Linked DNA regions of Homo sapiens: regions 2, 3 and 4 are each linked to region 1. Evidence: fine-mapped expression QTL. A gene starts in region 1. Each other region holds a variant in brackets. All regions are shown on one strand. Distances are between the middles of the regions. Region 1 holds the start of PNKP (polynucleotide kinase 3'-phosphatase). Region 2 holds the start of SPIB (Spi-B transcription factor). Region 3 holds the start of CGB3 (chorionic gonadotropin subunit beta 3). Region 4 holds the start of MIR4750 (microRNA 4750).

Region 1 (8,000 bases):
TCCCCCCTTCTGTGAGTCAGACCCCGAGAGTACAGATGGTGAGTGTCCCAGGCTGTTCCCCTCCCGACCTGAGGGCAGGCACACGGCCGACACAAAGGCAGGGACAGAAGCTGAAGTCCACCCTCTCTTTCAGATGGCAGCCTGAGCGAGGAGACCCCCGCCGGCCCCCCCACCTGCTCAGTGCCCCCAGCCTCAGCCCTACCCACACAGCAGTACGCCAAGTCCCTGCCTGTGTCTGTGCCCGTCTGGGGCTTCAAGGAGAAGAGGACAGAGGCGCGGTCATCAGATGAGGAGAATGGGCCGGTGAGGGGCAAATGTGGGGAGGTAGGGAGGGCAGCTGGAAGGGCTCTGAGCCGCCTCCTCCAGGAAGCCCTCCAGCATGGATGCTGCTTTCCACCCATAAGCTAACTGAATCCTCCCCTCAACCTCAAGAGGCGAGTTCTTGGACACGAGCCTTGCAGTTTTAACAATTGCAGCCTTACCATGTGTCCTAGTGCCTTATAGAGAAGGCCTCTCCTTTCCAGGAGCGTCTCTATTTATAGAACACCTGCTCTGGGCAAGGCACAGGTGTTTTGGCATGCCCTCCAGTGGAGAAACTGAGGCTTGGAGGGTTCAGATCACCTCCCATCCCCACCCTGCACATTCCTAGCCCTTTGCAGAATTTGTCCCACCCCCTGGTCCCCTGTTCACCCCTTGTAGCAACCCCTGTTTGAAGCTCCTGGGCTGGGCTCTGCTGGCCTAGGTGGGTCCTCCTCACCCTTCACTGAGCCTCCCTGAAGCAGAGGGGAAACTGAGGCACTGAGGGGACATGTGACTTCCCTGAGAGGCAGAGCTGGGACTGGAACCCAGGTGTGTTTCAGGAAGGAGCTGTGGGCTTTGAGGGAGGAGGCCTGGGTCCCCACAGTCCCCCCCTCAAGCCTCAGTGTCCTTATATGCAAACCAGCAGTCACAGTGGTGACCTTTTCTGTGCATCCTCCCTCAATGAAGCAGTGAGCACTGAAGACCAGGAACAGGGCCTGGTGCGGGCGGGGTCCACCTGCTGCTGCTCTCTGTGCTTGCGACTCATGGCAACACAGTTAATTGAATGCTCTGGCCTCTTGCGTGCTGTGCCCGGGGGCTGGTCTCCCACTGGGCTCAGGTCCAGTTCCTGATCTGGGTCTCCGGGTCCCATCCTGCGAGGGGACAGGCCCAGCTCCGGGTGACGGGGGCTGTAGTGGAGGCAGTACTAGGTGCCAGAACTGCAGGCTCCTTGGCGGGGGCTGACACAGCGAGGGATCTTTTCTGTAGCGCAGTGGCCACATGATAAGGCAGTAACAGCTGATTATCTCAGCCCTCACAGAGACCCTGTTATCCGCCCCATTTTTCAGAAGGGGAGACTGAGGCCTAGGGAAGCAAAACCTCTTGCTCATAGTTTGTCAGCGGCAGAGGTCTGATTGGAACATGACTGAAACCCCAGCCCAGATCCTCAGACATGAGACGGTGCACTCAGCCTTAATGGCTAGCAGGCAACAGCACTTCCACTGTGTAGGAAGCAATGTCCTAGGCCAAGAAGGGGAGAGGGAGAGGGGCAGGTAGGCTTCGTGGAGGAGGTGTCTGAACCGGGTAGAAGGGTTCCTACGTGGAGCAAGACGGGGAGGGGCACTGCTGGCAGTGGGCATCGCAGGGCACAGGTGGCAGGGCAGGGACGTGCTAGAAGTGGGCTTGGAGCCCGGGTGCACCCCTGGACCGCGTGTGGGTGCAGGGGGATTGCCCTGCCGGCGCTGACCTCGCCCCGTCGCCGTCCCCGCAGCCCTCTTCGCCCGACCTGGACCGCATCGCGGCGAGCATGCGCGCGCTGGTGCTGCGAGAGGCCGAGGACACCCAGGTCTTCGGGGACCTGCCACGGCCGCGGCTTAACACCAGCGACTTCCAGAAGCTGAAGCGGAAATATTGAAGTCCAGGGAGGGAGCGCCCCGGGCCGCGTCCGCCCCGTCCCACACTACGCCCCCGCCCCACTCCCGGGGCCTGCTAATCTGAGGCCGATCCGGGACCGGCCTCCTTGCGTCTCCCATTCCCAAGATTGTCCCGCCTCTGCCAATCCCCGCCGTCCTTCCAGCCCACGACCTGCCGCGCCGAGGAGCGGCATCTGTCCCGTTTCCCGATTGGGTCTGTCGTCTCTCTCCGCCTAGCGACAGATTCCTTCTATTAAGGGATTGGCTCGCTGAGTTCTAAGCTCTAAATGGGTCAACTCCTTTGTTTTCCGCCTAGCGACAAGGGATTTGCTCGCACGGCATTGGCTCCATCCCCTAGTCGCTGGACAGCTCTTTTTTTGATTGGCTCAAATCCTGTAAAGGGCTTGACCAGTCTCTACATAGTCACCGTCCGCTTTTCCTGAGTTCTCCCTCCCAATTGGCTCCAGCTTCCTGGGGGCGTGGCCAAGCCCTCCTCTTCCCAGAATTGGCCCGGGGCCTTCAATTTACGTTCTTTACACTACGGGGACTGGGGTCGTCTTTGCCCACGTCCCGACAACTTGTTCCCTGACCCCCTCAGGGATGGCCCCAAACTGTCCCTGCCTCTGGCACCCCCTTTCATTGGTTCCATCCATCCCCACAACAGCCTGCCAATCGAAGCCCGTCCCTGCATCCAGGATGGTACCAGCTCCCGCCCCTCGCCCCCCACCTCCACAGGTGCCTTAAAGGGCCCTCGTCCACCCAAGGTGGGGGGCAGGGGCCCTCACTCTCCGGCCCTGGTGTGGGGGAGAGAGTGAGGGGTTGGGGGATCGGCAGTTGGGAGGGGCGCTCTGAGATTAAAGAGTTTTACCTCTGAGATAAATGTGAAGTGTGTTGTGAGTGTTCATTCAACATTTTCTGAAACCGAATGGCAGCGTCTGATTATCAGTGAATAGCTGGGGGTTGGAATTACTGTGCCCATTTTATTTACTTTTTTGAGACAGGGTCCCACTCTCGCCCAGGTTCAAGCGATTCTCCTGCCTCAACCTCCCGAGTAGCTGGGATTACGCGCCACTGCCGCCCGGGTAATTTTTGTATTTTCAGTAGAAACAGGGTTTCATCATGTTGGTCAGGATGGTCTTGAACTCCTGACCTCAAATGATCCACCCGCCTTGGCCTCCCAAAGTGCTGGGATTACAGGCGTGAGCCACGGCGCCTGGCTTTGTGCCCATTTTATAGATATGAAGACACAGGTTCATGGGGTGGAGGAGAGCATCCCAGTCTTATGTGACCATGGAACCCAATCTTGAGGAGGTGAGTGTTGGAGACAGAGCCCACATATTCACCAGCAAAGCCAGGAACTCCAGCCGGGAGTCTTCTATTATAAAAGGACTGGAGCAACTGGGCTTGGTGCCTCACGCCTATAAGCCCAACACGCTGGGAGGCCAAGGCGGGAGGATCACATGACACCAGGAGGTCGAGATCAGCCTGGGCAGCACAGTGAGACCCCTTCTCCAAAGGGAAAAAAAAATGGCTGGAGGTTAGAAAGCAGGTGGAACCTCGTCCGAAATTAGGACTAGGTAAACGTAGTCCCACCAGACCACTACCGAAAGAATGCTAACACTAAATAAGACTTAAACGGATCTGAGCACTTTGGGAGGCCGAGGTGGGCGGATCACGAGATCAGGAGATCGAGACCGTCCTGGCTAACACGGTGAAACCCCGTCTCTACTCAAAATACAAAAAATTAGCTGGGCGTGGTGGCGGGCGCCTGTAGTCCCAGCTACTCGGGAGGCTGAGACAGGAGAATGGCGTCAACCCGGGAGGCGGAGCTTGCAGGTGAGCCGAGATCGCGCCACTGCACTCCAGCCTGGGCGACAGAGTGAGACTCCGTCTCAAAAAAAAAAAAAAAAAAAGACTTAAACAGGGCTCACTACCACCCATTTTTTAAAGCTTTTGTCACGTGTTAGCTCCTTTAATCGTCATGGTAACCCCACGAAGCGGAAACGATTATCCTTTTTATAGATGAGGAAACTAGAACATCGAGGGTGAAGCCAAAGAAGGACTTAGGGGCGCTGTCGGGGGCGGAGGTTTCCTCGACTGACAATGACCATCAGATGGGAAAAAAATCTTCCTCCCTGGGATGAAAATTAGAAGTCAAGGTGGAAAGAGGCAAATCTGCTAACGGAGGATCCAGTCCCCGCTACCGGCCTGAGCCTCGCGTTGCAGCAAGAGAGATGAAGGTCAGGGCTGCCGAGAGACCCTGGGGGCCGGGAGTCGGGGAAGGGGCGTGGCTGCTGTGGGAGGAGGCCAGGCCCCGCCCCCCACCCACGAGGGGACGAGTCATTTCCGTCCGCCGAGGAACCGACCGCCGCCGGCCGGGTTGCAGGCGGGGCACCTCGGGCAGGACCTCCCTGGTCGGAAGTGGCCGTGAGCCCAAGCCGCGGTCCCGGGTGAGTACGGGGCGGGGCGGAGGCATGTGCGAGGCTCTCTGCCTGTACGCTGGAAAGTGGGGATTGCAACTCGGGGAGGGATGGAGCACGCGTCGTCGCCTGGGAAACGGGTCGACCCGCGGAAGGCGAGCGGGTGGGACTTCCGGAGCAGTTAATGGTGGGGAAACTTTCTAGTGGATGTGGGAGGAGGCGGGACTTCCTGCAGCAAATTGGGGCTGTGCGCCGCTCAAGCCCGTTTACCTGCTCCCCAGGCCGGCACCCAGGATGGGCGAGGTGGAGGCCCCGGGCCGCTTGTGGCTCGAGAGCCCCCCTGGGGGAGCGCCCCCCATCTTCCTGCCCTCGGACGGGCAAGCCCTGGTCCTGGGCAGGGGACCCCTGACCCAGGTTACGGACCGGAAGTGCTCCAGAACTCAAGGTGAGCGGGGCCTGAGCTGGAGGGGGTGTGGCCTGCTGCAAAAGCGGGAACAATCCAGAGGGACGCTTGGCTGCTACGCGGGATTGCAGTGGTGCAGCCAGCCCCGAAGTCGGAAGGTGCTCTCTAGGGAGTACAGGAAGATAAAGTTTGTGCTTGATTTAGAATTAGCTAGATCCTTTGGGGGAGAGGGGATCGAGCCGATTTAGGGAGGATGTTCACTGCGCGGATGATGCTCAGGCCATCGGGAAATCCAGAAACAGGCGACGACCTTCGTCAAGAGAAAAATGATCCTGTGGAGAAAAGTAAATGTCGCTAGGTTGGGATGGATGGTAACAGGCCAAGCCCCGGACCTATATCTAGCCACATTTTTTGTCAAGGAGGAAACCAATTCTGTAGAGAAAAGTACCTCCCTGTCCCTTGCAAGGACCAGTGTCAGGCAATCCTAGTGCCACTATCTGGCTACTGCATGTCAAGGAGCCAATCCCATGTAGAAATAAACTGCCTCTTACTCCCTGGATGCTATAGCCTGAAGCAGGCCACACTCCCCAGAAATGAGGGACCCAATCACACAAGGATGCAAATCCTGACTCCACCCCTCCAATCCTCAGTGGAGCTGGTCGCAGATCCTGAGACCCGGACAGTGGCAGTGAAACAGGTATCAGTGCCTCTGCAAGGGCCAGCAAGGCCTGGGGATGGGATTTGGGGAGGAATTGCAAGCCGTCAGTGAAGGGGTACATTAGGAAAATCTGATTGGGGCCGGGCGTGGTGGCTCAAGCCTGTAATCCCAGCACTTTGGGAGGCCGAGGCGGGCGGATCGCTTGAACCCAGGAGTTCGAGACCAGCCTGAGCGACATGGTGAAACCTGTCTCTCTAAAAAATTAGCGGGAATGGTGGCGCGTCCTTGTAGTTCCTAATCGGGAGGCTGAAGCGGGAGGATCCCTTGAGCCCAGTAGGTCAAGGGTGTAGTGAGCAGTGATCACCACACTGTACTTCAGCCTGGGTGACAGAGCGAGAACCTGTCTCAAAAAAAGAAAAGAAAAAATATGGCTGGGAGAGAAGGGGATGTGTCCAGTAAAGAAAGAAGTGTTGCCTGTTTCAGTGGGGTGGGTACCTGTCCAAGACCTTAGAAATTGGACAAGGCGGCCAGGCGCGGTGGCTCACGCCTGTAATCCCAGCACTTTGGGAGGCTAGGCGGGCGGATCACCCGAGATCAGGAGTTTGTGACCAGCCTGGCCAACATGGCGAAACCCCATCTCTACTAAAAATACAAAAATTAGCGGGGCATGGTGGCGGGTGCCTGTAATCCCAGCTACTCGGGTAGCTGAGGCAGGAGAATCGTTTGAACCCAGGAGGCACAGGTTTCAATGAGCCAAGATTGCACCACTGCACTCCAGCCTGGGCGACAAAACAAGCCTATATCTCCAGGGGAAAAAAAAAAAAAAAAAAAAAAAAGATTCGGACAAGGCTGAAAACCTGTAACCGTTCCAAAGCCCGTTCCAAAGTGAAGAGGTGGGGCCTAAGGGTCTGATAGTGGTGGAGAAGGGCTGATTTTTCCGCTGGGTATTTGATTGGAGGAAGCTCCCGGTGGGGGCGGAGCCAGTCCCAGCTCCTCCCTCTCTTTCTGCAGCTGGGAGTTAACCCCTCAACTACCGGGACCCAGGAGTTGAAGCCGGGGTTGGAGGGCTCTCTGGGGGTGGGGGACACACTGTATTTGGTCAATGGCCTCCACCCACTGACCCTGCGCTGGGAAGAGACCCGCACACCAGAATCCCAGCCAGATACTCCGCCTGGCACCCCTCTGGTGTCCCAAGATGAGAAGAGAGATGCTGAGCTGCCGAAGAAGCGTATGCGGAAGTCAAACCCCGGCTGGGAGAACTTGGAGAAGTTGCTAGTGTTCACCGCAGCTGGGGTGAAACCCCAGGGCAAGGTGAGGGCCACGCCGAGGGCTGAGGGAGCCGCCACAGACTGGGACCCAATCCCACGTTTGTTGCGTGCTCTCAACTTTTTAGCCTCTACTTACTTTTCTGAGAAATGGGCCTAATGATAAATGCAGGGATCGTTGTAAGCAGTTAAGCAGTGGGGAGAATGATATATGTCAGCTCCTGCGTTACCCACAGTGACCACCCAGTAATCAGCAATGACCATGACTGTCTCAGTAGGAGCTATTACGATGAGGATTTTTTATGTCCAGAGAGACTTGAGTTCAAATGCTGTTACCACCACATTCTGAGTCCCATGTGTCTCATCTCTACGATGCTGAATCCATAAAAAAAGCACGTGGCATAGTTCCTGACATGCAGTTAGCACCCAAAGCTTTGCTCCTGCTTTTATTTTCACGGTTATTAGCCCACCGAGGTGGTGAAGGCCAGGGGAAGAAGGAGGCTGGGTAAGACATTAACCCCCATTTTAAAGACTGTAATCCTGGGGCTGGCGTCATAAGGAGTAACAGGAGACAGTAAGGTTAAGATGTCGGGCCCCACTCAGAGGCATCACGGATGCTTGAGATGGAGGTGCTCTGTGACTCGGTTTCCCCATCTGTGAGATGGCAGTGATAACACCCTGCCTGGCAGGGTTGGTGTGAGTCAGCCTGTGAGTGAGGAGGGTCAGAGGTATCACAGTGCTGCTGTTTGTCTTTCCTTGGTGACACCAGGTGGCTGGCTTTGATCTGGACGGGACGCTCATCACCACACGCTCTGGGAAGGTCTTTCCCACTGGCCCCAGTGACTGGAGGTGATAAGAGGCAAAACAAGGGAGTGAGTGAGGCCTGGAGTCCACCTCTGGCCCCGGGTCACCCCTGCCGCTTCATACCTGCCGTAGGATCTTGTACCCAGAGATTCCCCGTAAGCTCCGAGAGCTGGAAGCCGAGGGCTACAAGGTATGTGCAGCCGCCTGTCTGCATGGGCACGTGCACGTGGCGGTCCGACCGCAGTCAGACCAAGGCCCTGGTGAGCAGAGCGTCTGGTGACACCCTTTGCTCCCCAGCTGGTGATCTTCACCAACCAGATGAGCATCGGGCGCGGGAAGCTGCCAGCCGAGGAGTTCAAGGCCAAGGTGGAGGCTGTGGTGGAGAAGCTGGGGGTCCCCTTCCAGGTATGGCTGGAAGGGAGGCTGGGAGCTATGTGGGGGCACAGAGATCCAGAGCGAGGGCTTTAGACTCCAGGGTAAGCGGGGCGGAGGCCTCAGGCAGTGTGATGCTGATAGGAA
Region 2 (8,000 bases), 550 kb before region 1:
GCCTGGAGAAGGGGTGGAAGAACTCCCCCAGCCTTGCCTGCCTGGGGGCTCCGGAGGTGAAGGGCAAGGGGAAATGGAAGTGTTTCACTTAACAGAGGCAGGGGTCAATGCTTTTTAAATACACCTCCAGGCCAGGCGTGGTGGCTCACGCCTGTCATCCCAACACTTTGGGGGGCCGAGGCGGGCAGATCACCTGAGGTCAGGAGTTCAAGACCAGTCTAGCCAACATGGTGAAATCCCGTCTCTACTAAAAATACAAAAATTAGCTAGGCGTGGTGGCGCACGCCTGTAATCCTAGCACTTTGGGAGGCTGAGGCCAGTGAATCACCTGAGGTCAGGAGTTCGAGACCAGCCTGCACAACATGGGGAAACCCCATCTCTACTGAAAATACAAAAATTAGCTGGGCCTGGTGGCAGATGTCTGTAATCCCAGCTACTCTGGAGGCCGAGGCAGGAGAATCGCTTGAACCTGGGAGGTGGAGGTTGCAGTGAGCTGAGATCGCGCCACTGCACTCCAGCCTGGGTGACAGAGTGAGACTCTGTCTCGAAAAATAAATAGGCCGGGCATGGTGGCTCATGCCTGTAATCCCAGCACTTTGGAAGGCCAAGGCAGGCAGATCATGAGGTCAGGAGATCGATACCAGCCTGGCCAACATGGTGAAACCCCGTCTCTACTAAAAATACAAAAATTAGCCAGGCATGGTGGTGCGCACCTGTAGTCCCAGCTACTTGGGAGGCTGAGGCAGGAGAATCGCTTGAACCCAGGAGGCTGAGGTTGCAGTGAGCCGAGATCGCACCACTGTACTCCAGCCCGGCGACAGAGCAAAACTCTGTCTCAATAAATAAATAAATAAATAAATCTCCATATGTTGATTCGCCCCATGAATCATGTGTTGTTGCTTCAAGAACTCGAGTCTAGGAAAAACTAAAGCTAGATCCACACCATGCCTAGGACCTGGCAGTCTCACTCCTTGGCATTTAATCAAGAGAACTGAAAATGGATGTGCACAAAATAGCCTTGTTCCAGAATCATCCCAGCAGCTTTATTATGAGTCTCCAACTGGAAACAGCCCAGGTGTCATCAACAGAAGAAGGGATAAACAGACTGTGGTGTGGGCTGATCATAGATAGAGTACTATACAGCAAGGAAAAAGGACAAACACTGACACACACTTCATGTTGAGTGAGGGAAGCCAGACCCCAAAAGGGACATGCTGTATGACTCACTTTACATAAAGTTCAAAAGCAGGCAGCTGGGTGCGGTGGCTCACGCCTGTAATCCCAGCAATTTGGGAGGCTGAGGTGGGAGGATCACTTGAGCTCAGGAGTTTGAAACCAGCCCGGATAACATGGTGAAACCCTGCCTCTACTAAAAATACAAAAATTAGCTGGGCATGGTGGCACATGCCTGTAATCCCAGCTACTTGGGAGGCTGAGGCAGGAGAATTGCTTGAACCCGGGAGGTGGAGCTTGCAGTGAGCCAAGACGCTGCCACTGCACTCCAGCCTGGGTGACAGAGCGAGACTCCTTCTCAAAAAGCAAAACAAAAAAAAGAGCAGGCAAAACAAATTACAAATTGGTGGCGGAAAATATCAGAGAAAGGTATTGACTGAGAAGGGACAGGAAGGAATATTTCAGAGATTGAAATGTTCGGTATCTTGATCTGGCTTGTGGCTACACGGTGTATAGATAATGCAAAAACACAAGATTTGTCACTTTACTGACTTGTTAGTTACACTTCAATTAAAAAACAAACAAACAAAAACAAACAAAAAAAACATGGCTGGGGTGTGAATGTGGAGGGGCATAAACAGGGGCTTTCTTTCAACCACATCAGTAAGATTTGATTACTCAGACTGGATTGTGGGTTCAAGGGTGTTGGGTATAGTATTCCGTATCTGAACTGTTAGAGAACACAATTTTTAAAAATACGAACAAAAAGAAGGAAAGGAACATGAAAATACATTGTCTGAATATGGGATGGGCAGAGAGAGATACAAAGCCACAAGGAAGTGGATTCAAGCCTGAGAGGGGGAGAGAGACATCAAAAATACGGATGCGGGGTAGCAGGAGATACCAAGGGGGAGCTCAGAAACAAAGTGACAGGAAGAGGTGGGAGGGGAAACTGAGGCAGGAAGCAAATGACTTCTCTGAGGGAGGTCACTGTGGGCCACCCCTCCCTGGCCCCCAGGGGCCCCAACTCACCAGACAGCTGAAGTGTGGCCCGTCGAGCCTGGAGGGGGAGAGACACAGGGGCATGCTGAGGCTGCCTCCAGCCACCTGAATCTCAAAGTGGTTGGGGGCTGATGGGGAGGCGGCAGCAGCTGTGACCACCGCAGCCCTGTGTGAGGGACCAGCCCCACCACATTCACCGGACTCCCCCACTACCCCCTGCTGGGACAGGAAGTGGGGGGTGGGGGGGAGGCAAATGTCCCCCTCCTCCCCAGAATTTGCATAGACACCCTGGTGGGGAGGGGCAGGGAAAGTGAGGGAGAGAAAGTCCCGGAAAGGAGGTGTGGGGATGGAGAGGGGGCCTGGGTCAAGTGCGGCCTTGGTGGCGAGTCAGTTGAGTCCAGCTTGGACCAGAGGAGAAGGATGGAGAGATGTCTGGGTAGAGAGGGGGAAGCCCGGAGAAGACTCAGATGAGGAGGCTCAAGGAGAGGTGGGACACAGAGAAAGGTGTGCAAAGGGACATTCACGCACAGAGGCGGGGAGGATTCCTGGAGCCCCAGATGGAGGCACTGAGAGTGAGGGTGAGGCAGAAGGAGACCAAAAGGCAGGGAGAGCGAGAACTGGAGACAGAGACACAGAGACAGGCAGAGAGACAGAGAGCAACAGGCAGAATGTTGAGAGCTGGGAGATGCCAGATACAGAGCGAACAGATACGGGAACTCGGGGAGACAGGAGGATGGACAGAGTGAGAGCCACGGAGGACGCCCGCAGGAGGGCACGCTAGCAAGTGTTCTGGGGAAATGAGATCTTTGGGGACCAGGAAAGATAGGAACTGGGGGGATGGAGAGTCCGAAGTGAAGAGGGAACAGAACCAGAAGGGGCAAGAGACAGGGTGGACCCCTCCCCTCCACTCCCACCCACCGGCCGTGAGGAGCAGAGAAACCACTGCCCATGGGTGAGGCCCCACAGAGGGGCAGTGCAGGTGGGGACCCCGGGTGCAGGTTTGGGGGCCCTCACTTACTGTGCAGCCTCCAGGGCGAGCATGGTGGTGCCGGGCGGGCTGTTTGCCGCCCGCTGCAGCCGCCAACCCTATTTATATCTTGGCCCAGCCCCTGCCGGGGGGAGGAGGGTGCCCGCTGGCCACAAGCTCGGCCCTCCTCAAAAATCCCCTCAGGGAGGGGGTCAGGGGAGGGGGCTGGATTGCACAACCCCTTTGTCACATGGCAGGGATGG[C/T]GGGCCAGGGGCTGTCTGGATTTGGGGATCCCCGTGGGGCTGGGTTTGGGGGGCTGACCTTGAGGGCTGGAGATGGGACAGGAGCTGGATTTGGGGGAACCCTGAAAACATCGAGGAAGGGCTGGGGTTCACTGAAGAGGAGAATCAGGAAACGGAGGATCTGGACCCAGGAGCCGAATTCCAGCAGGGGCGGGCTGGGGGCCGAGGGGCAAGCACAAGACTCTCCCCGGGGGATGTGTGAGGTGACGGGAGGGCCGAGGGCATCTGACGGCAGTTAGAGGCTGCGGGGATAGAGATGGGAGTCGCTGGGGGGAAACCCAGACCCAAAGCCCATTGCCAGGACCCCGACGTGGAAACATCGTGGGTGTGTGGTCCGGCGGGGGATGGGGGGGTCCCCTTGGCCGGGCTGAGGAGTGGAAGCCCCGGTGCGCCTGGGGCTGCCCCAGGGCCTGGAGGAAACAGGTCAGCACCTGGAGGGCGGGGCAGCCACCAGGGTCCCCAGGGTCATCACCAGGGAGGGCTGGGCCGGGGCCAGACACCTGGGGGCCCTAAGCAGGGCAGAGAAGCGCTGGTATAAGGGTTCCTTCAGGGCCAGAGAGGAAACTGAGGCAGGCTTGGCCCACATGAACCAGGCAGCACAGGTGGGAGTCCGGGGGCTTTTGCTGAGGATGAGGGGCGGTGCGGGCCTCAGGAGGGTCCCAGCCAAGGCCAGGGCTTATGAAACCAGACAGTGTCCCCCAGAGACCACAAAGCACCATATAGCAAAAGTCCAGAACTTTATTAATTCTCCCTGGTCCCGCCCCCGCCCCATGGGATGCTTGCAAGGTCACCAGGCCTCAGGTCCAGGGGGTCCGAAGCGCCGCAGGAGCTGCTCCTGGTCTTCCAGGTCCTTCCGCACCTTCTTGCGCATGTAGAAGATGGGGCAGTCCCGGCTGCGGGTGGGGGCAGGGGCAGGGTCAGGACCAGCCAAGGCCCAGTGCCCAGCCTGGGAGAGGGGTGGGGGCTGTTCCCAGGACTTTGGTCCCCGCCTGCTGCCCAGCCCACCCGCCCCCTCCCGCAGCGGGCTGTTTGCTCAGCAGGCACGGGGGGGGTGGGGGGGGGGAGCCGATAACAGCGGGTGCCTGGCGAGGTGCAGGGCCATGGCTGGCCGTATATCACCTGTCACCTGGCGTGGGAACCCACCCCGCCTACCCGTTCCCTGGGGAAAGCCCGGCCCCGCCCTGGGGAGGGGGCCAGGCTGGCTGGGTGTGTCGGGAGGACAGCCGTTTCCCGGGCAACACTGGGTGCCGGGCGCTGCCTCCCTAAGCACCCACCCCCTCTGGGGGGCTGGGATGGGCCCATTTTTCAGACAAGGACACTGAGGCTCAGGACAGCTCACAGCTGGAAGGGGATGGGCGGGGAGGATGCTCAGGAGAGGCCTTGGAGTCAGAGGTTGGGTCCACAACCCACAGGCCTGGGAGCTGGGAAGGGGCGGGGCAGCCCAGGGTCGGGACATGGCACACACCTGGTGCAGATGACGTCCTCGTGCAGGCTGCCCTGGCAGCGCTGGCACTGCGTCCAGAGGCGCGAGAAGCGCTCCTCCAGGGCATTCAGATGGGATACCTGGGGACGGCAGCGGCTGAGCAGGGCGCCCCCGCCTCCCCACCTGGCCCCTCCTCACCTCCCGGCCCTCTCACCTCCTTCTGATACAGCTCAGACTCCCGGGGCTGGCAGAACTCACACACGGCTCCTGTGGGGAGGCGGGTCAGCCCAAGTGCTGGGGCCCAGCCAGGAACTGGGCCACCCCATCCCTGCCCACTGCCAATCCCAGCTTCTGAAAGTCCCCAGAGGCTGGAGAACAACGGAGCAAGTGTGCTGGGAAAACTCCCCTGGGGAACTCCCGGGGTGGGGGCCGAGGACCCTCTGTGGGGGGTGGAGACAGGGGCCACCCACCCAGGGGCCCTGGGCCCACTGGGTGGCAGTGCCAGCCGATGGGGTGGGTGTCTAGGATCTGGGGTGACGGCAGAGCAGGTTGAGGGCCAGTGGGGGCCCAGTGGCCAGGGCCGCTCACCCTGGTGGCTGAGCACTGTGCGGCAGCCAATGCAGCAGTTGCGGCGTTTGGCGAAGGCCAGGAGGCCGCCCACCTTGCCCGTGAGCACCGTCTTGCAGCGCGTGTGGTCCCCCCCTGCAGGAGAGGAGGCAGGTGGTGGGCCGGTGATCTCCTCTGCCCCCCCAGGGTGCCCCCAGTCCCCTGGTGCCCCCGTACGCAGTAGCACAGCCTCGGCACGGCCCTCGCCCAGGATGGGCTCGAAGATGCGCAGGAGGGGCTTGGCCAGCTGCTGCTCCAGGTAGTACTGCGTGTCAATGGGCAGGCTGTGCTCCAGCACGAACAGCGGGTCCTGCGGCCACATGGCAGTCACACCCGGGCAGCCAGGGAAAGGGCACCGGGGTGGACACGGGGTGGTCATGGGGCCTGGGGCTTAGGGCCTAGGCCTGCCTGCGGGCTGTGACATGGGGGGGGCCTGGGTCTGGGATGGGGTCGGAGGTCACGGAGTCTCTGGGCCACAGAGTCTGTAGGGCTCTCAGGTCACCACGGAAGGGTCAGAGTTCACAAGGGGAAGCAAGGATGAGGAAGGGGTCAGGAGGTCAGAGGTCATGGGGCTAAGATGTGGGTCACTGGGGGTGGGGGTAGAGCTGGAGGATTATGAATCCAAGGGAACCCCCGGCTGGGGAGCTGTATGCACAGGGGAGGGACTGGGGCCCCTTCCATAGGGAAGCAAGGGAGGGGTCAGAATAGAGGGGGGACCTCCAGAGGGGGCCGAGGCCACACCCAGGCTGCCATGGGGGGCGGTTCTCAGGGCCCCACAGGGCACGGGAGGCCCCACCCTTCCCGCAGGCCCGCCCATCTCGGAAAGCAGAAGTGAGAGCGAGGGGGCTGGGCGGGAGCAGGCAGCCAGGTGGGCCTGACCTCCGACTTCATGTAGGCGGCCACACCCTTGGCGGCACTGATGATCACGTAGGGGACGCGGTCGCCCAGGCTGGGCGCACTCCCGGGGTCCCGCTTCCTCATCCTGCGTGGAGATGGGGTGGCGGGTGGGTGAGGGCAGGTGGGTGGCGGGGGTGGGGGCGAGGGTGTAGGAAGTGGGCCCAGCTGGCAGGAAGGAGGGGGTTATTTCTGGCCAGGCCACCCGCCCCGCGCAGGACCTCTCGGCCAGCTCCACGTGGGCCTGCTTGCCGGCATAGTCGGAGGCCGCGCGGGTCAGCTCCTTGGTGATGACCAGCTGGGAGATATCGATGCGGTTGCACAGCAGGTCCGAGATGACGTCCTGTGCGTGAGCCACCGCGCCCTCAGGGTCTCTGTAGGAGAGCGGGCCGCACAGCGTCACCAAAAGGCACTGAGGGCCAGGCTGGTGCCTCCACGGGTCTCAGGGCTGGAGACCAGGATGAGCTCTTAGGGCTGAGGCTCAGGGCAGAGAGGGGCCCTTCCTACCATAGGCTGCAGAGTGGCAGAGGCAGGGCCTGAACCCACAGCTGCCCAAGCCGACTCTTTCCACTGCTTCACCACCGAGGAAGAGCTGGGCCTGACACCTGTGTTCCCAGAGGAGGAGGGGCTGGGGGTCTGGACTCTTGTATCTAAGAGAGGAAGGGGCTGGGGGCCCTGACCCCGGGATCTGAGGAGGAGGGGGCTGGGGGCCTGGACCCGTGGGTCTGAGGGAGGAGGGGCTGGGGCCTAGACTCCTGGGTCTGAGGGAGGAGGGGTTTGGGGCCCAGCCCCCTGAGTCTGAGGGAGGAGGCCCCACACACCGGTCGATGAGCAGGCGGCGCAGTGAGGCAGTGACCAGGTTGGCCACGAGGGGGCAGTTGTCCCTGCGCACGGCCTCCAGGCCCTTGCAGTCCATGCGGTCGTGGGCGTCGGGCCGGGAGGAGAAGAGCAGGCCCGCGTAGCGCTTCTTGCTGATAAGCAGGTATGGGAAGTAGACCTGGGAGGGAGCCATGGCCAAGACCCTGAGCCTGAGGAGGCCAAGCCCCAATCTGGAGACGCCCCCCAGAAACTGAAGGTAGACAGGGTCCCAGACGCAGTTTGAGGACATGGGAGCCGTGCCCTGAGCCTGGTGGGATGGACCGAGACACTGTATGGCTGGAAGTGGCTCCTGAGGCCCCTCGGCAATGCCAGAGCCCCCACACCAGAGACCCCAATCTGAAACAGAGACTGGGATAAATCCAGATAGTCCCTAAAACATGAGATCCAGACAGGCGAGTCGATGAAGCATCCCATGAAAGAGAGGAGAAACTACGGCTGGGTGAGCCCTGAGGCAGAGACCTCCCCACTCTGCGAGGCTCCAAGTCCAAGGCCTGGCACGAGAGAGCGTTAAGCCACGGGGAAACAGTACAGTGTGAGAACTGGGCGTGGCGGCTCAGGAGGCCAAGGCGGGAGGATCGCCGGAGCCCAGGAGTTGGAGGCTGCAGTGAGCTGTGAACTCGCCACTGCACTCCAGCCTGGGCGACAGAGCGAGACCCAGACTCTTCAAAAGAAAATATGGTGCAAGGTTTCCTGGGACCAAGTGTGCCGCACTCAGAGGGCCAGGGGCAATGGTGCACAGATCTAAGGTGCACCC
Region 3 (8,000 bases), 840 kb after region 1:
CTGTCAGCCATGGCGGTCGTCACCTGTGGTAAACAGAATGGCGGGAGCAAGTGGGATGTCCCACTACTCGGGCTGAGGCAGGAGAATCACAGGAACCTAGGAGGTGGAACCTCCTCGCCCAGGAGGGGCGCGGCTTCGGACTTAGTTTCTGCCCAATGAGAGAGGGCCTCCCCGTGACTGTGCTGCCAGGTTAGCCACTTGACCCTGGTGCCGCCAACGAGGGATTCAGCCCGAGCCCCACCTCTCCCTTAGGGACCTCTGCCCACTCTACCCTCAAGCCAGGATGCCCGGAGCGGTCCCCGGAAATGCGTGTGCTTCAGGTGATTTAACTGATTATTGAATAGGCCCGCAGGAGGTGTGTCCTGCCCCCGAGGCCTCAGCCTCAGAGGACATTATCTGGACTTAGTCCCTTCCCCGCGATGCCATCAAGCTGGACAATTTTAAGGTCTGTTTCTTTCCCAGTGTAGGGTATAGGTTGGCACAGGGAAGAGGGCTAGAAACCTGACTTGAGCTCCCCGCCCAGGGCTGAACTCTCCAGCATCCTGATCACTTCTCATTGAACCTTGCTTATACTCCCCGTGTGATCGGTAGCTCTTTATCTCAAAACAAAATATTCTAAGCCGACCCCTGCCCACTCTCACCAAGTAAGATTTCTCATTTGAACCCCAGCTCCCAGATACTTAAAGGCCTTCTGTAGACCATGTCCTCAAGGTCCCCTGGCCATCTGCTTGCATGTTCCAGTTTCCCTCCTCCCCCATGCACATCGTGAAATGTGCCCTCCCACTCCCCAGGATGAGCAAGGTGGTGTCCTCTGTGACTGAGCAGTCAGCAACTTAACACCAAAGGTCACCAATGATCAAATCCATGAGAGTTGATCCGAGGAGTTATGTATTAGGGCTACGAAAGAGTAAACACTCAGTAAATAGTGGCTATTATTATTATCATCATCATCATGATTACCCTCAAGTTCCCCTGGGAGAGCTCCTATTCAACCTTCAAAACCCCACGTTGTTGCACCCATCCTACAGAGATTGAGCTCAAATTCAGAGAGTTGTGATTTTGCGATGATTTGATGAGTTCCCCAACTGGGGTCCGTCCGTAGAGCAGCTGGGCCAACCCTGAGGTCTCTCAGCATCCAGCTCTGTTCTTTTTCTGCCTGACCAGTTCCTGGGTATAAGTCTCAGGCCCGGCCAGTCCGGCTGAGGAGTGTGCAGACACAGGCTGTGCCAGTTTGAATCCATCGCCAGTCCACACGGCCCTGGGCATCAGCGGTCAATGCCCGCACATAGGACTGCTTGGCCTTGCACTCAGACACCCAGTGCCCCCCGGTCCACACCCCAGCGGCAGCCCCTCCACCTACCCCTGGGCCACCTTCTTCAGAGTTATCGGCCTTGAAGCAGGTGACAAAGAAGTGTTGGTGGAGGGAACTGCTGCCAGCTGCAGGCACCTCACCCAACACCTCCACCTCGAGCACAACCAAGTCCACAGCGGTCCGGGGGTCTGTCACCCAGACACTGACTGCATCGCACACGGCCAGCTCACCCTGATGACTCGCCGGTGAAGTATCGCTCACCCCTCGCTGGCTGCGGTTGGCCCGGGTGCCTGCTGACTCCCAAAAGGCCCCAGTCTCCAGCAGGAAGACCAGAGGGGGCCCGGCAGCGGCACCCCTAGACAGGACCACTTGGGGGAAAATAAGGTCCCACTCTGGAGGAGGAAAAGGGGACAATGTCAAGGGTGGGGGTTAGGACTCCATTGACACACTGGGGAGGAAGCAAATGAGGGGGATGCAGAGGGAGCCTGGGGGAGCGGGAGCATCTCTCAGAGGACATGGAAACAGGGAAAAGGAGGCTGGGATTAGAGAAGAGGATAAACACTTCAGTGAGGTCAGAAGTTGGGAACCCCAGGGGAGGCCTGCCTGCCAGGATTATGGGGAAGCCCTTGCTCTAGAAGTTTGGGGGACTCCATGTATGGGACTTGCATCACACCCAACTTGTAGATTAATAATAAATATTCAACAACTACAGGTCAGGCACTATGGCTCACACCTGTGGTCCCAGCACTTTGGGAGGCTGAGGCGGGTGTTTGACTTGAGGTCAGGAGTTCAAAAGCAGCCTGGCCAACACTGTGAAACAACATCTCTACTGTTAATACCAAAATTAGCTGGGCGTGGTGCTGCGCTCCTGTAATCCCACCACTTTGGGAGGCCCAGGCGGGCGGATCATGTGGTCAGGGGATCGAGACCTTCCTGGCTAACACGGTGAAACCCCGTCTCTACTAAAAATACAAAAACTTATCTGGGCTTGGTCGCGGGCCCCTGTAGTCCAAGCTACTTGGAAGGCTGAGGCAGGAGAATGGAGTGAACCTAGGAGGGGGAGCTTGCAGTGAGCAGAGATCGCGCCACTGCACTCCAGCCTCCACGACAGAGCGAGACTCCATCTCAAAAAAAAAAAAAAAAAGAAAGAAAGAAAGAAAAAGAAAACAGGGTGGAGATGCAGGATGACCTCCAGCTCAGGAGGTGTCCATGGTCTGGCCTTCTGTGGGGAGAAGGAAGGCCACGTGATCGGTGTGGCCCAGGTGGCAGGGCCTCAGCCTTCTAAGCCGAGCTCCCTCTTCCTCCCTCTGATGTTGGCACTGGCAGTGCAGGTGGGGCGGAGAGGGGCGCGGCTTGGGGACCTGAATGGGATGAATGGGCCGAGGGGGATGTCATCTCTTCCATCCTCCTTCATCCACTGCCTCTCCCTTCCCCTCCTCCCCCCTCCCCTCCGTCCATCTGCCTCCCATCCCAGCTAGGACCCATCACCTGGGTAGAAAAGGGGCCTCTGGAAAGGGGGCGGGGCCTTGACTCTTGGGTACCCTGCACTTGAAGAGGAACTCTGGGAAGGGGTTGTTCAGGGATTTGGCCCCTTCCCCACCTGGCTGTATAACCTTCCTGTGCTTTTCTTCTGCTAGCCGGTTGCCCCTCCCTCTCCTGAGATGTCAGGAAAGAGGGGGCCACCTGCGTCCTCCACAGGGGCCCCGAAGCCTGGGGTTCCCAGCCCCAGAGCTCGGAGGTGGAGGAGGTGCTACAGCTCTGGTGACCACTGGTTGTTTCCCAGTCTTCTCCACGCCAACCTTTCCCAGAACCACAGGCTTCCAGAATGTTGTAGGGAAACTGCAAAATCCGCGCCTCCACCAGCCTCTCCCAGCGCCAGGTCAATTTCACACACAGGGAAACTGAAGCCTGCCTCAGAGGGGCAGCGTTTTACCTCCTTAGTGGCAGTTTTGAGGTGAATCGGGGTCTCCCTAGGATTCCAGGTTGTGCACTTTCTCTAAATTGTGGAATGTGGCCAGGCGTGGTGGCTTGAGTCTGTAGTCCCAGCTACTCAGGAGCCACAGCAGGAGGATGGCTTGAGCCCAGGAGTTCAAGTGCAGTGGGGAAACATAGGGAGACCTCGTCTTAAAGCAATTTGTTTGGGGCCAGGCGTGGTTTCTCAGGCCTATAATCCCAGCACTCTGGGAGGCCAGGGCAGGAGTATCACTGGAGGTTGGGAGTTTGAGACCAGTCTGGCCAATGTTGTGAAACTGCATCTCTACTAAAAATACAAAAATTAGCAGGGCACGGTGGCAGGCGCTTGTAATTCCAGTTACTCAGAAGGCTGAGGCAGGAGAGTCACTTGAACCCAGGAGGCAGGCGCTACAGTGAGCCAGGATTGTGCCACTGTACTCCAGCCTGGCCAGACAGAGTGAGGCTCTGTCTCAAAAAAAAAAAAAAAAAAATTGGGCCGGGTGCAGTGGCTCATGCCTGTAATCCCAGCACTTTGGGAGGCCGAGGCAGGCAGATCACAAGGTCAGGAGATCAAGACCATCCTGGCTAACACGGGGAAACCCCGTCTCTACTAAAAAATACAACAAATTAGCCAGGCATAGTGGTGGGTGCCTGTAGTCCCAGCTACTCGGGAGGCTGAGGCAGGAGAGTGGTGTAAACCCGGGAGGTGGACCTGCAGTTAGCCGAGATCGCGCCACTGCAGTCCAGCCTGGGCGACAAGTGAGACACCCCCTCAAAAAAAAATTGATTGGAACATCCTCCAGGGTGCAAGACCCTCGGTTCCTCAGAGTTCTACAGGAAGGATAGCAGAGTGCAGTTGCCCAGAGGTGAAGTCCCATCTCTGCCATTTGTTGGCTGTGTGACCAGGCACAAATCATTAATTTCTCTGAGCCTGTATTTTACCATCTGTTGCTATTGAGTAATAGTAGTTGAATATTTTCTACTTTTATTTTTATTTTATTTTTATTTTTATTTTTTTTGAGACGGAGTCTGGCCCTGTCACCTAGGCTGGAGTGCAGTGGCGCGCTCTCGGCTCACTACACCTCTGCTTCATGGGTCCAAGCGATTCTCCTGCCTCAGCCTCCTGAGTAGCTGGGAGTACAGGTGCGCACCACCATACCCAGCTAATTTTTGTGTTTTTTTTTTAGTAGAGACAGGGATTCACCATGTTGGCCAGGCTGGTCTCAAAGTCTTGACCTCAGGTGATGCACCCACCTCGGCCTCCCAAAGCGCTGGGATTGCAGGCGTGAACCACTGCACCCGGCCGAACATTT[T/A]TATCTTTATTTTATGATTATTATTATTATTTTTTTAAGATGGAGCTTTGTTTTTGTTGCCCAAGCTGAAGTGCAATGGCGCGATCTTGGCTCACTGCAACCTCTGCCTCCTGGGATCAAGTGATTCTCCTGCCTTAGCCTCCCAAGTAGCTGGGATTATAAGCATGCAGCACCACGCTGGAGGATATTTTGTATTTTTAGTAGAGGTGCGGTTTCTCTATGTTGGTCAGGCTGGTCTGGAACTCCTCACCTCAGCTGATCCACCCACTGCAGCCTCCGACAATGCTGGCATTACAAGTGTGAGCCACCATGCCCGGCCTTATTTTTATTTTTATTTTTTTTGTGAGACAGAGTCTCACTCTGTTGTCCAGGCGGAAGTGCAGTGGCACCATCTTGGCTCACTGCAATCTCGGCCTCCCGGGTTCAAGCGATTCTCCTGCCTCAGCCTCCTGAGTAGCTGAGACCACAGGCGTGCAGCACCAGGCCTGGCTAATTTTGGTATTATCAGTAGAGATGTTGTTTCACAGTGTTGGCCAGGCTGCTCTCGAACTCCTGACCTCAAGTCATCCACCCGCCTCAGCCTCCCAAAGTGCTGGGATTACAGGTGTGAGCCATAGTGCCTGACCTGTAGTTGTTGAATATTTATTATTAATCTACAAGTTGGGTGTGATGCAAGTCCTATATATGGAGTCCCCCAAACTTCTAGAGCAAGGGCTTCCCCATAATCCTGGCAGGCAGGCCTCCCCTGGGGTTTCCAACTTCTGACCCCACTGAAGTGTTTATCCTCTTCTCTAATCCCAGCCTCCTTTTCCCTGTCTCCATGTGCTCTGAGAGATGCTCTGAGAGATGCTCCCACTCCCCCAGGCTCCCTCCGCATCCCCCTCATTTTCCTCCTCCCCAGTGTGTCAATGGAGTCCTAACCCCATCCTCGACATTGTCGCCTTTTCCTCCTCCAGAGTGGGACCTTCTTTTCCCCCGAGTGGTCCTGTCTAGGGGTGCCGCTGCCGGGCCCCCTCTGGTCTTCCTGCTGGAGACTGGAGCCTTTCGGGAGTCAGCAGGCGCCCGGGCCAACCGCAGCCAGCGAGGGGTGAGCGATACTTCACCGGCGAGTCATCAGGGTGAGCTGGCCGTGTGCGATGCAGTCAGTGTCTGGGTGACAGACCCCTGGACTGCTGTGGACTTGGGTGTGCTCGAGGTGGAGGTGTTGGGCGAGGTGCCTGCAGCTGTCGGCAGTTCCCTCCGCCAGCACTTCTTTGTTGCCCACTTCGAGGCCGATAAATCTGAGGAAGGTGGCCCGGGGGTAGGTGGAGGGGGCTGCCGCCGGGGTGTGGACCGGGGGGCACTGGGTGTCTGAGTGCAAGGCCAAGCAGTCCTATGTGCGGGCATTGACCGCTGATGCCCAGGGCCGTGTGGACTGGCGATGGATTCAAACTGGCACAGCCTGTGTCTGCACACTCCTCAGCCGGACTGGCCGGGCCTGAGACTTATACCCAGGAACTGGTCAGGCAGAAAAAGAACAGAGCTGGATGCTGAGAGACCTCAGGGTTGGCCCAGCTGCTCTACGGACGGACCCCAGTTGGGGAACTCATCAAATCATCACAAAATCACAACTCTCTGAATTTGAGCTCAATCTCTGCAGGATGGGTGCCACCACATGTGGTTTTGAAGGTTGAATAGGAGCTCTCCCAGGGGAACTTGAGGGTAATCATGATGATGATGATGATGATGATAATAATAATAGCCACTATTTACTGAGTGTTTACTCTTTCGTAGCCCTAATACATAACTCCTCGGATCAACTCTCATGGATTTGATCATTGGTGACCTTTGGTGTTAAGTTGCTGACTGCTCAGTCACAGAGGACACCACCTTGCTCATCCTGGGGAGTGGGAGGGCACATTTCACGATGTGCATGGGGGAGGAGGGAAACTGGAACATGCAAGCAGATGGCCAGGGGACCTTGAGGACATGGTCTACAGAAGGCCTTTAAGTATCTGGGAGCTGGGGTTCAAATGAGAAATCTTACTTGGTGAGAGCAGGCAGGGGTTGGCTTAGAATATTCTGTTTTGAGATAAAGAGCTACCGATCACACGGGGAGTATAAGCAAGGTTCAATGAGAAGTGATCAGGATGCTGGAGAGTTCAGCCCTGGGCGGGGAGCTCAAGTCAGGTTTCTAGCCCTCTTCCCTGTGCCAACCTATACCCTACATTGGGAAAGAAACAGACCTTAAAATTGTCCAGCTTGATGGCATCGCGGGGAAGGGACTAAGTCCAGATAATGTCCTCCGAGGCTTCGGCCCCATGGGCAGGACACACCTCCTGCGGGCCTATTCAATAATCAGTTAAATCACCTGAAGCACACGCATTTCCGGGGACAGCTCCGGGCATCCTGGCTTGAGGGTAGGGTGGGCGGAGGTCCCTAAGGGAGAGGTGGGGCTCGGGCTGAATCCCTCGTTGGCGGCACCAGGGTCAAGTGGCTTCCCTGGCAGCACAGTCACGGGGAGGCCCTCTCTCATTGGGCAGAAACTAAGTCCGAAGCCGCGCCCCTCCTGGGAGGTTGGACTGTGGTGCAGGAAAGCCTCAAGTAGAGGAGGGTTGAGGCTTCAGTCCAGCACCTTTCTCGGGTCACGGCCTCCTCCTGGCTCCCAGGACCCCACCATAGGCAGAGGCAGGCCTTCCTACACCCTACTCCCTGTGCCTCCAGCCTCGACTAGTCCCTAGCACTCGACGACTGAGTCTCTGAGGTCACTTCACCGTGGTCTCCGCCTCACCCTTGGCGCTGGACCAGTGAGAGGAGAGGGCTGGGGCGCTCCGCTGAGCCACTCCTGCGCCCCCCTGGCCTTGTCTACCTCTTGCCCCCCGAGGGGTTAGTGTCGAGCTCACCCCAGCATCCTATCACCTCCTGGTGGCCTTGCCGCCCCCACAACCCCGAGGTATAAAGCCAGGTACACGAGGCAGGGGACGCACCAAGGATGGAGATGTTCCAGGTAAGACTGCAGGGCCCCTGGGCACCTTCCACCTCCTTCCAGGCAATCACTGGCATGAGAAGGGGTCAGACCAGTGTGAGCTGTGGAAGGAGGCCTCTTTCTGGAGGAGCGTGACCCCCAGTAAGCTTCAGGTGGGGCATTTCCTGAAGGTGCGGATCTGAAATGTTGGGGTATCTCAGGTCCTCTGGGCTGTGGGGTGGGCTCTGAAAGGCAGGTGTCCGGGTGGTGGGTCCTGAATAGGAGATGCCGGGAAGGGTCTCTGGGTCTTTGTGGGTGGTGTACCACGCGGGATGGGAAGGCCAGGACTCGGGGCTGCGGTCTCAGACCCGGGTGAAGCAGTGTCCTTGTCCCAGGGGCTGCTGCTGTTGCTGCTGCTGAGCATGGGCGGGACATGGGCATCCAAGGAGCCGCTTCGGCCACGGTGCCGCCCCATCAA
Region 4 (8,000 bases), 22 kb before region 1:
GTGCCATGAGGTCTAACCACTGACCTACTCACTGAAATCCGAGAATGAGAATGGGCCAGCCCAGGGGCTTCTACACATATGGGTCATCTCTCAACTCCCTTCTTTTTTTTTTTTTTTTTTTTTTTTTTGAGATGGAGTCTTACTCTGTCACCCAGGCTGGAGTGCAATGGCGCCATTTCAGCTCACTGCAACCTCCGCCTCCCAGGTTCAAGCAATTCTCTGCCTCAGCCTCCCGAGTAGCTGGGATTACAGGCGCCCGCCACCACGCCCAGCTAATTTTTGTATTTTTAATAGAGACGGGGTTTCACCATCTTGGCCAGGCTGATCTTGAACTCCTGACCTCGTGATCCACCTGCCTCAGCCTCCCAAAGTGCTGGGATTACAGGCGTGAGCCACTGCCCCCGGCCCCAACTCCCTTCTTTAGCTTCCCCGTAAACACTGCTGACCCCAAAGCTGCATCAGCTTTTGGCCTCTTCCCCTTTCACCCACACACTGTCCTGGATAACCTCCCCAGTCTCCACCTCTGGCTTAAACATAGATCCATGGGCTGATGGAGACATCTGCCTCCCGAGACCCTGATCTGTGTCCCTCCCCAGGACACTGGGCTCAGAAGCTTCCCCTAAACCTGTTCCTCCTCCCGGTGCCCCCATCTCACGATGGCCCCACCATCCCGCAGTCACGGGCAGACCCCTAGGAGCCATCCTCCTCCTGACCTCCTCCTCGCCCACCTCCCCCACCATCAGTGCCCACCCCTGCCGCCTGACGCTTGTGCCCTGCTCCCCTCTGCCTGCCCCAGCTCAGGCCTCCTCCTCTGCCCTGGACCCTCCCCCAGCCTCCTCTCAAGCTGCCCAGGCTCTAGTCTCCCCAGCCTGGTACCAGAAACGTCTTCCCACACACCCAGAGTGATGCTGCTCACAGCCCCCAGTGGCTCCCCGCTGCCTCCAGGACAAAGTCTGATCTTTTCAGGCTCAGCTTTGAGCCCTGACTGGCCTTCCCTTCTGCACCCCTCCAGCCTCATGCTCTTTTCTCCTCTAAGAAATTTTTGTCCTCATGGTGGTCCACATGCCCCCAGCTCTGTGTTCCTCACACCCACTATACCTGTGTATCACCCTCCCTTTCCAGAATGCCTTTCCCTTCCCCACACAGGAACTCCTGCTCAGCCCTCAAGAACTAGCTCCAATGTCCCCTCCTCCAGGAAGCCTTCCCTGATACCTTTAGGGAGGAACTGGCCACACCCAACATCCCCTCCCCACCCAGGTCAGAGCCCACTTGCCCATCTCCCCTTCTAGACCAGGATGGGGGCCATGTCCAGGTCATTTCTATGCCTTGACACTGACTGGTTTGGGAGTCTGAGAGATGCGAGATGCATGAGTGAGTGAAGGGGCACTGCCTTCCCTCTGAGGTCCTGGCCAGAAGGGGGAAGCCAGGTGGACCAAGAAGAAGGCTGAAATTAGATGGGGGCAGCAAGGCTTCTGGGAGGGGGTGAGATTCGAACAAAGTGCTGAAGAACACGCACTCATGTGCCACGCAAAGACAGGCAGGGAAACAATAGGTGCCAGATGTGTAGGTGGGAGAGCCCTGAGGGCAGGTGGTCTGGGCACTGTACACTGTTCACAGAACCAGAGCTGCCATAAAAGACATGGACTGAGGTAAGTGGGGATCTTGGTTCTGCTGAGATTCAGGGCAAAGAGAGTGACCATGAGGCCTTCCCCAGAGAGTCAGAAGGCGGGTACCTGGCACGCAGTGGCTCACGCCTGTAATCCCAGCACTTTGGGAGGCCGAGGCAGGCAGATCACTTGAGGTCAGGAGTTCGAGACCAGCCTGACCAACATGATGAAACCCTGTCTCTACTAAAAATGCAAAAATGAGCCAGGTGTGGTGGCAGGCGCCTGTAATCCCAGCTACTTGGGAGGGTGAGGTGGGAGAATCACTTGAACCTGGGAGGCAGAGGTTTCAGTGAGCTGAGATGGCGCCACTGCACTCCAGCCTGGGCAACAGAGCGACACTCCATCTCAAAAAAAAAAAAAAAAAAAAAAGACATTGAGGGGCTAGCAGGGGCCTTGAACATGAGGCTGAGGGGCAAGAATTCTGTGGCTCCAGGCACTGGGGAGCTACAGGAGGGCTGTGGGCAGGGGACGGACGGTAGATAAACTTCTCAGCCATCATGCCCTGTCAGCACTGACCAGTGGCACAGGGGACCAGCTTCTGTCCGTGGCCACAGTGATTCAGGCAACAAATAATCACTGAGCCCCCGGGAGGACACAGCACGCCTGGGACCCTCTCCCAGTCTCCTCTCCAGCTGCCCACATCCCTGCCTCCATGGAGCTCACAGTCTGGCTGGCTGGCTGAAAAATAGGCAAAATAACACGCAACCGGGATGAGCTGTGACCAGCCGGGCCAGCCGAATGAGGGGGGATGGGCGGCGTTAACAGTTCGGTAATATCGGAGGAGCAGTGGCATCTGAGTTGCCGTGGAGGGCAAGGCGGAGGGCATGGTGTGGGCAAAAGCCCAGGGGCTTGAGAGTGGTGAATGGCCAGCCGTGGGCAGAACCACGAGGAGAAGCCGAGTGTGGGCTCCAGGCCCGGCCTCCACCCTGGCTGCCCGGGCAGCTCAGCACCATGTCTGCTTCTTCCACAACAGGCCCTCAAAGACCTCAAGGCACTGGGCTGCAGAAAGGCGATGAAGAAGTTTGAAAGGCACACGCTCTTGGTAAGTGGGGATCTTGGTTCTGCTGAGATGCAGGGCAAAGAGAGTGACCATGAGGCCTTCCCCAGAGAGTCAGAAGGCGGGTACCTGGCACCCTAGTCCTGCCACCGCCTTCCTGCCTGACCCGGGGGCTGGACACGCCCCCTGTCTGGACCTCCGTTTCCCTCATCTGTCAGAGAGTGGGGACAGGATCCTACGGTCCAAGGACATGTCATGGGACCAGGAGGCCCAGCTGCGGAGGGGCTCTCTCAGGGGTGCAGCCTGCCTGGGCCCTAACCTCGGCCTGTGCCCAACCTGCAGGAATATCTTCTCGGGGAGGGGAACCTGAGCCGGCCGGCCGTGCAGCTTCTGGGAGACGTGATGTCCGAGGATGGCTTCTTCTATCTCAGCTTCGCCGAGGCCCTCCGGGCCCACAGCTGCCTCAGCGACAGACTCCAGTAAGGGGCGGGGCTGGCGGGCAGGGGGGGGGGGCGGGGGGCAATCAGGGAAAGTAGCAGGGAGTGGGAGGAGCCTCTGGGTCTGGGGGCGGGGCTGTTGTGAAGGGCGTGGCCTAATTGATGGTCGCGGGGCTAAGGGTTCCCAGATAAAGGACACGGCCTAGGGGAGAAGTGGTGGGGTCCCTGGTGACACAATCCACTACTCCTGCGGCCTTTGGGATGTCAGGGACGGGCGGGGTCGGGAGAGGTGGATGACGGGGGAGCGGGCCGGTGCCCATAAGGGCCAGCTGCCGGGGTGGGTGGGGCAAGGCAGAGGGGCAGGGCCGCAGAGCCCAGGTCACGCCCCCACCCCGCCCCGCCCCGCCTGCAGGTACAGCCGCATCGTGGGTGGCTGGGACCTGCTGCCGCGCGCGCTGCTGAGCTCGCTGTCCGGGCTTGTGCTGTTGAACGCGCCCGTGGTGGCGATGACCCAGGGACCGCACGATGTGCACGTGCAGATCGAGACCTCTCCCCCGGCGCGGAATCTGAAGGTGCTGAAGGCCGACGTGGTGCTGCTGACGGCGAGCGGACCGGCGGTGAAGCGCATCACCTTCTCGCCGCCGCTGCCCCGCCACATGCAGGAGGCGCTGCGGAGGCTGCACTACGTGCCGGCCACCAAGGTGTTCCTAAGCTTCCGCAGGCCCTTCTGGCGCGAGGAGCACATTGAAGGCGGCCACTCAAACACCGATCGCCCGTCGCGCATGATTTTCTACCCGCCGCCGCGCGAGGGCGCGCTGCTGCTGGCCTCGTACACGTGGTCGGACGCGGCGGCAGCGTTCGCCGGCTTGAGCCGGGAAGAGGCGTTGCGCTTGGCGCTCGACGACGTGGCGGCATTGCACGGGCCTGTCGTGCGCCAGCTCTGGGACGGCACCGGCGTCGTCAAGCGTTGGGCGGAGGACCAGCACAGCCAGGGTGGCTT[T/C]GTGGTACAGCCGCCGGCGCTCTGGCAAACCGAAAAGGATGACTGGACGGTCCCTTATGGCCGCATCTACTTTGCCGGCGAGCACACCGCCTACCCGCACGGCTGGGTGGAGACGGCGGTCAAGTCGGCGCTGCGCGCCGCCATCAAGATCAACAGCCGGAAGGGGCCTGCATCGGACACGGCCAGCCCCGAGGGGCACGCATCTGACATGGAGGGGCAGGGGCATGTGCATGGGGTGGCCAGCAGCCCCTCGCATGACCTGGCAAAGGAAGAAGGCAGCCACCCTCCAGTCCAAGGCCAGTTATCTCTCCAAAACACGACCCACACGAGGACCTCGCATTAAAGTATTTTCGGAAAAAGCCGTGTGGTCCAGCCTCCCCCGTGGCTCAGTTACTTCCCCAGTTTGCCTGCATCGGAACCACTAGCCCTGCAGTTAGCAGGCGCCACGCCCATCCTGGAGCCCCCCCAAAAATCTGCCCCTCACTTCTTCCTGGACAGTGGGGCTCCAGAGGAGGGTGGGGGGTGGTGCGCACAGAGGGAACCGGAAGGACGCCCTGCACCACCGGGAAATGGCAATCACAGCGACCACCTCTGTCACGAGGCTGAAGTCCAGATGGGCCCTAATGCAAGTAACAGAAAGCCCAGCTGACAGTGGCTGAACAGGAGGTGATTTTTCTCACAAGCAGCAGCTGGGAGGGCAGGCTCCCCAGAGTGCATCTCTGCAGGCCCTTCCACCTTGGTTATGTCCGGGAAGTGTTCCCACACAGCTACCAGGTCGCCGCCACAGCCCAGAGCACCCTATCCTCTTCCAAAAACCCCAAATCAGGCCGGGCGCGGTGGCTCACGCCTGTAATACCAGCACTTTGGGAGGCCAAGGCAGGCAGATCACCTGAGGTCGGGAGTTCAAGACCAGCCTGGGCAACATGGTGGAACCCCATCTCTACCAAAATTACAAAAATCAGCCGGGTGTGGTGGCACACGCCTGTAGTCCCAGCTACTCAGGAGGCTGAGGCAGGGTAATTGCTTGAACCCGGGAGGCGGAGGCTGCAGTTAGCCGAGATCTGCCACTGCACTCCAGCCTGGGCGACAGAGCAAGACTCCATCTCATAAAACAAACAAACAAAAAAACAAATCAGGCAACTCAGGAAGCCCTGCCTCCACAAACCCCAATCATTCACCCTAGGCTCTGCCCAGCCACCATCCCCTCCTCAACCAGGTCAGAGCCCACTTGGCAGCCTTCCCCCCACCAACAAGAAGCCAACTGCACATGAGAAGTGTCAGTTTAATGAAGCCAGCTTATCAGCAGGGCGGCGGAGCACACCTGCCCCCTCGCAGGTGTGCCTGGCTCGGGCTAAAGTGCCTGTGCAGAACGAGGCTGCCTGGCGGGGTTAGGAGTCGGCGCCCTCGTCCTCCTCCTCGGGCAGGATCTCCAGGCTGCTGTCGGGCTGCGGGGCTGTGTCCGTGGAGGGCGGCGGGGTGGGCGGGGCCCGGGTGGGCGACAGAGGCAGCGGGGAGGCGGTGGGCGAGGGGCTGTGGGGCTCTGCGGGCGGGGCCAGCCCCAGGATCTCCTGCACGTTGTGGGGCAGCTCCTGGAGGCACGGGATGAGAGAAGCGAAAAGCGGAAGGTGAAGGTGAGAAGGGGGCGGGGGTCGGTCGGGGTTCGGGCGGGGCGCTGCGGGGCGGACGGGGACTCACGGGGCAGGCGGTTAGCTGGCGGTGCAGGGCCTCGGCGCGGGTCAGCACGTCCTCCACGCTCAGCTTCATAGTCAGCTCGTTGATGTGCTGCGGGAGGGGGTGGGTCAGGCGCCAGTCGGCACTCAACCACCTCCGCCCGAGCGCCCACTCTGTGCTTCGTGCTGGGAAACAATGAAGACACACCGGGCTGGCCCTCTGGGGGCTCAGAAGTGCGCTGGGCGAGACATGCTTCTCAGGCCTCCGGGAGCATTCTGAGCACGTACTCGGGGAGGGAAGGTCCCCACCCACCTGCCCGGAGGACCTTGCTGGGAGCAGGCATGGCATGGGGCAGAAGGGAAACCTACGCGGCCCCACCCCCACTGCGCTCCCAACTAACCAGGCTTTCAATAATCCCACACTAAACACCTGCTCCCCGGAGGTACTGCGGCCCTGGGCAGCGCCCAGCTCAGGGGGGACAGGGCGGGGGCGGGGCCGGAGCCTCACCTTGAGGATCTCATTGGAGCCGAAGCCGGACAGCATGAGGGTGTCCCTCTCCATGTCCAGGATGGCGCAGGCCACCAGCAGGTGCAGATTGGGGCCAGGGAGCCCTGTCCACAGCACCTGAGGGTGCGGGACAGAGGGAGGGAGGGAGGTCATAGCCCAGCCTGGGCCTGAGGTCCCACCAGGGTCTGTCCCTCTCCGCCCAACCTCCCAGGGCAGGTGAGCCCACCCCTTCAGGCCTCTCGCCCAAACTGGCTGGCCCACCTCCCACAGCCGAAGGACATCCGGGAAGGGGAATTCCCTCTTGAACCAGATGAGCAGCCACCGGAAACAGAAGCAGAGAGAGCCGGAGTCCTGGGAATCTGGGGGATGACATGGAGCCCACTCAGCCTTGCCCAGCGCTGGGACTGAGAGTTTGAGAAGTCATCCTGACTGGAAGACCTTCCCCAAGTCTAGGCAAGTGACTTATGCCTGGCTGGGGAACCTCGGAGGTGAGGCAGGAGCAGCCCTGAACGCGGGCCCTGCCCCTCCTTCCTCCCACTCTCCAGAGGAAGTGTGCTATTATACTTCCACATCTGCCATGGACATGGAAGGGAGGCAGGACGCCCAGCACGCCCGACGAAACAGACCTCTGCCCGCTGCTGGTGAGCGCTAAGGGAACTGACACTCCTAGATACGCTGTAGCAAAAATTTAAGCTGAAGGCCGGGTGCGATGGCGCACGCCTGTAACCCCAGCACTTTGGGAGGGTGAGGCGGGTGGATCACCTGAGGTCAGGAGTTCGAGACCAGCCAGGCCAACATGGTAAAACCCCATCTCTACTAAAAATACAGCCTGGCCAACGTGGTGAAACCCCATCTCTACTAAAAATACAAAAATTAGCTGGGATGGTGCCACACCCCTGTAATTCCAGCTCCTTGGGAGGCTGAGGCAGGAGAATCGCTTGAACCCGGGAGGTGGAGGTTGTAGTGAGCCGAGATCACACCACTGCACTCCAGCCTGGGTAACAGAGCGAGACTCCATCTCAAAAAGAAAAAAAAAATTAAGCTGGTGTTGAACCTTTTTTTCCCCCCAAGTTAACTCAAATGAAAGTGAGAGTCTGAGCATTCTAACCTTTGAGGAAAGTAACAACGGAGGACAAACTCTCCAAAGCTGTGTGAAAACAAGCACTGTCCTGAACAAAATTCCACTTCTTGGAAGTGAACCTAAAGAAGAAATTACCCAGACTATGCACCGTGATGAAAAACTGCAAAGGACCCGAATCTCCAGCAGGTCAAGTTACATCAAATCTACCACATCTTGCAGGTGGACACAATGCCGCGCAGTCAAGAAAAGTGATGTTTCAGAAGACTTTGAATGACCCAGAGGCAGCCTCTGTCCTTGTGCCCTAGGAGGTGATGCTTTTCTATGGCTTAGTTTCCTCATCAGTAAGGTGAGGACAGAGTATCTCAGCTCCCTCCCCCGGGGGTCCTAAAGCATCGAGGAAATGTTCATGAATAAGTTTAACTTATTATCATCACCATCTGCACTCAAGAAAAACAATGATATCAAACAGCAACTTTAACTTTCTTTTTTCTTTTTTTTTGAGACAAAGTCTCGCTCTGTCGCCCAGGCTGGAATGCAGTGGTGCAACCTTGGCTCAAGTGATTCTCCTGTCTCAGCCTCCTGAGTAGCTGGGATTACAGGTGCTCGCCACCACCCCCGGCTAATTTTTGTATTTTTAGTA

Evidence for each region. PIP is the estimated chance that this variant, and not a neighbour inherited with it, causes the effect.
Region 2: its variant is fine-mapped to the expression of PNKP in cerebellum (GTEx, PIP 0.98).
Region 3: its variant is fine-mapped to the expression of PNKP in rectum (CEDAR, PIP 0.95).
Region 4: its variant is fine-mapped to the expression of PNKP in whole blood (TOPMed, PIP above 0.99).

Annotation. Positions count from the first base shown.
Region 1 is chr19:49,863,850-49,871,849 of GRCh38, reverse strand. PNKP (polynucleotide kinase 3'-phosphatase) reads left to right here and starts at 4,274. Exons shown (of 17, transcript NM_007254.4): 1 at 4,274-4,381; 2 at 4,633-4,796; 3 at 5,405-5,451; 4 at 6,424-6,723; 5 at 7,447-7,526; 6 at 7,614-7,671; 7 at 7,779-7,886. The coding sequence starts at 4,646. AKT1S1 (AKT1 substrate 1) reads left to right here. Exons shown (of 5, transcript NM_001098633.4): 3 at 1-38; 4 at 134-303; 5 at 1,790-2,811. The coding sequence ends at 1,933. RefSeq lists enhancers at 1,191-1,838, 4,037-4,818, 4,819-5,601, 5,602-6,384 and silencers at 1,754-2,063, 4,138-4,437, 4,508-4,877.
Region 2 is chr19:50,414,179-50,422,178 of GRCh38, reverse strand. POLD1 (DNA polymerase delta 1, catalytic subunit) reads right to left here. Exons shown (of 27, transcript NM_002691.4): 20 at 7,189-7,364; 21 at 6,589-6,741; 22 at 6,353-6,455; 23 at 5,651-5,783; 24 at 5,456-5,569; 25 at 5,082-5,134; 26 at 4,910-5,007; 27 at 4,165-4,337. The coding sequence ends at 4,232. It overlaps SPIB (Spi-B transcription factor), which reads right to left and starts at 3,241. Exons shown (of 6, transcript NM_003121.5): 1 at 3,194-3,241; 2 at 2,206-2,233. The coding sequence starts at 3,216. RefSeq lists enhancers at 2,345-2,394, 5,815-5,874, 5,766-6,550, 6,551-7,335, 7,285-7,404 and silencers at 3,934-4,102, 4,385-4,444, 4,475-4,614, 6,145-6,304, 6,485-6,574 and 1 more. The variant C/T (reference allele first, on the strand shown) is at 3,406.
Region 3 is chr19:49,023,521-49,031,520 of GRCh38, reverse strand. CGB3 (chorionic gonadotropin subunit beta 3) reads left to right here and starts at 7,188. Exons shown (of 3, transcript NM_000737.5): 1 at 7,188-7,564; 2 at 7,918-8,000. The coding sequence starts at 7,550. It also overlaps the pseudogene NTF6A and the pseudogene NTF6G. The variant T/A (reference allele first, on the strand shown) is at 4,579.
Region 4 is chr19:49,886,114-49,894,113 of GRCh38, reverse strand. TBC1D17 (TBC1 domain family member 17) reads right to left here. Exons shown (of 17, transcript NM_024682.3): 14 at 6,541-6,638; 15 at 6,280-6,396; 16 at 5,797-5,883; 17 at 5,364-5,690. The coding sequence ends at 5,490. It overlaps IL4I1 (interleukin 4 induced 1), which reads left to right. Exons shown (of 8, transcript NM_152899.2): 6 at 2,641-2,709; 7 at 3,007-3,143; 8 at 3,514-4,460. The coding sequence ends at 4,444. MIR4750 (microRNA 4750) reads right to left here and starts at 5,939; the gene lies at 5,884-5,939. It overlaps LOC124904743 (a long non-coding RNA gene), which reads left to right and starts at 6,638. Exons shown (of 4, transcript XR_007067293.1): 1 at 6,638-6,920; 2 at 7,351-7,668. RefSeq lists enhancers at 2,032-2,698, 2,699-3,367, 3,368-4,035 and silencers at 3,403-3,592, 3,823-3,992. The variant T/C (reference allele first, on the strand shown) is at 4,102.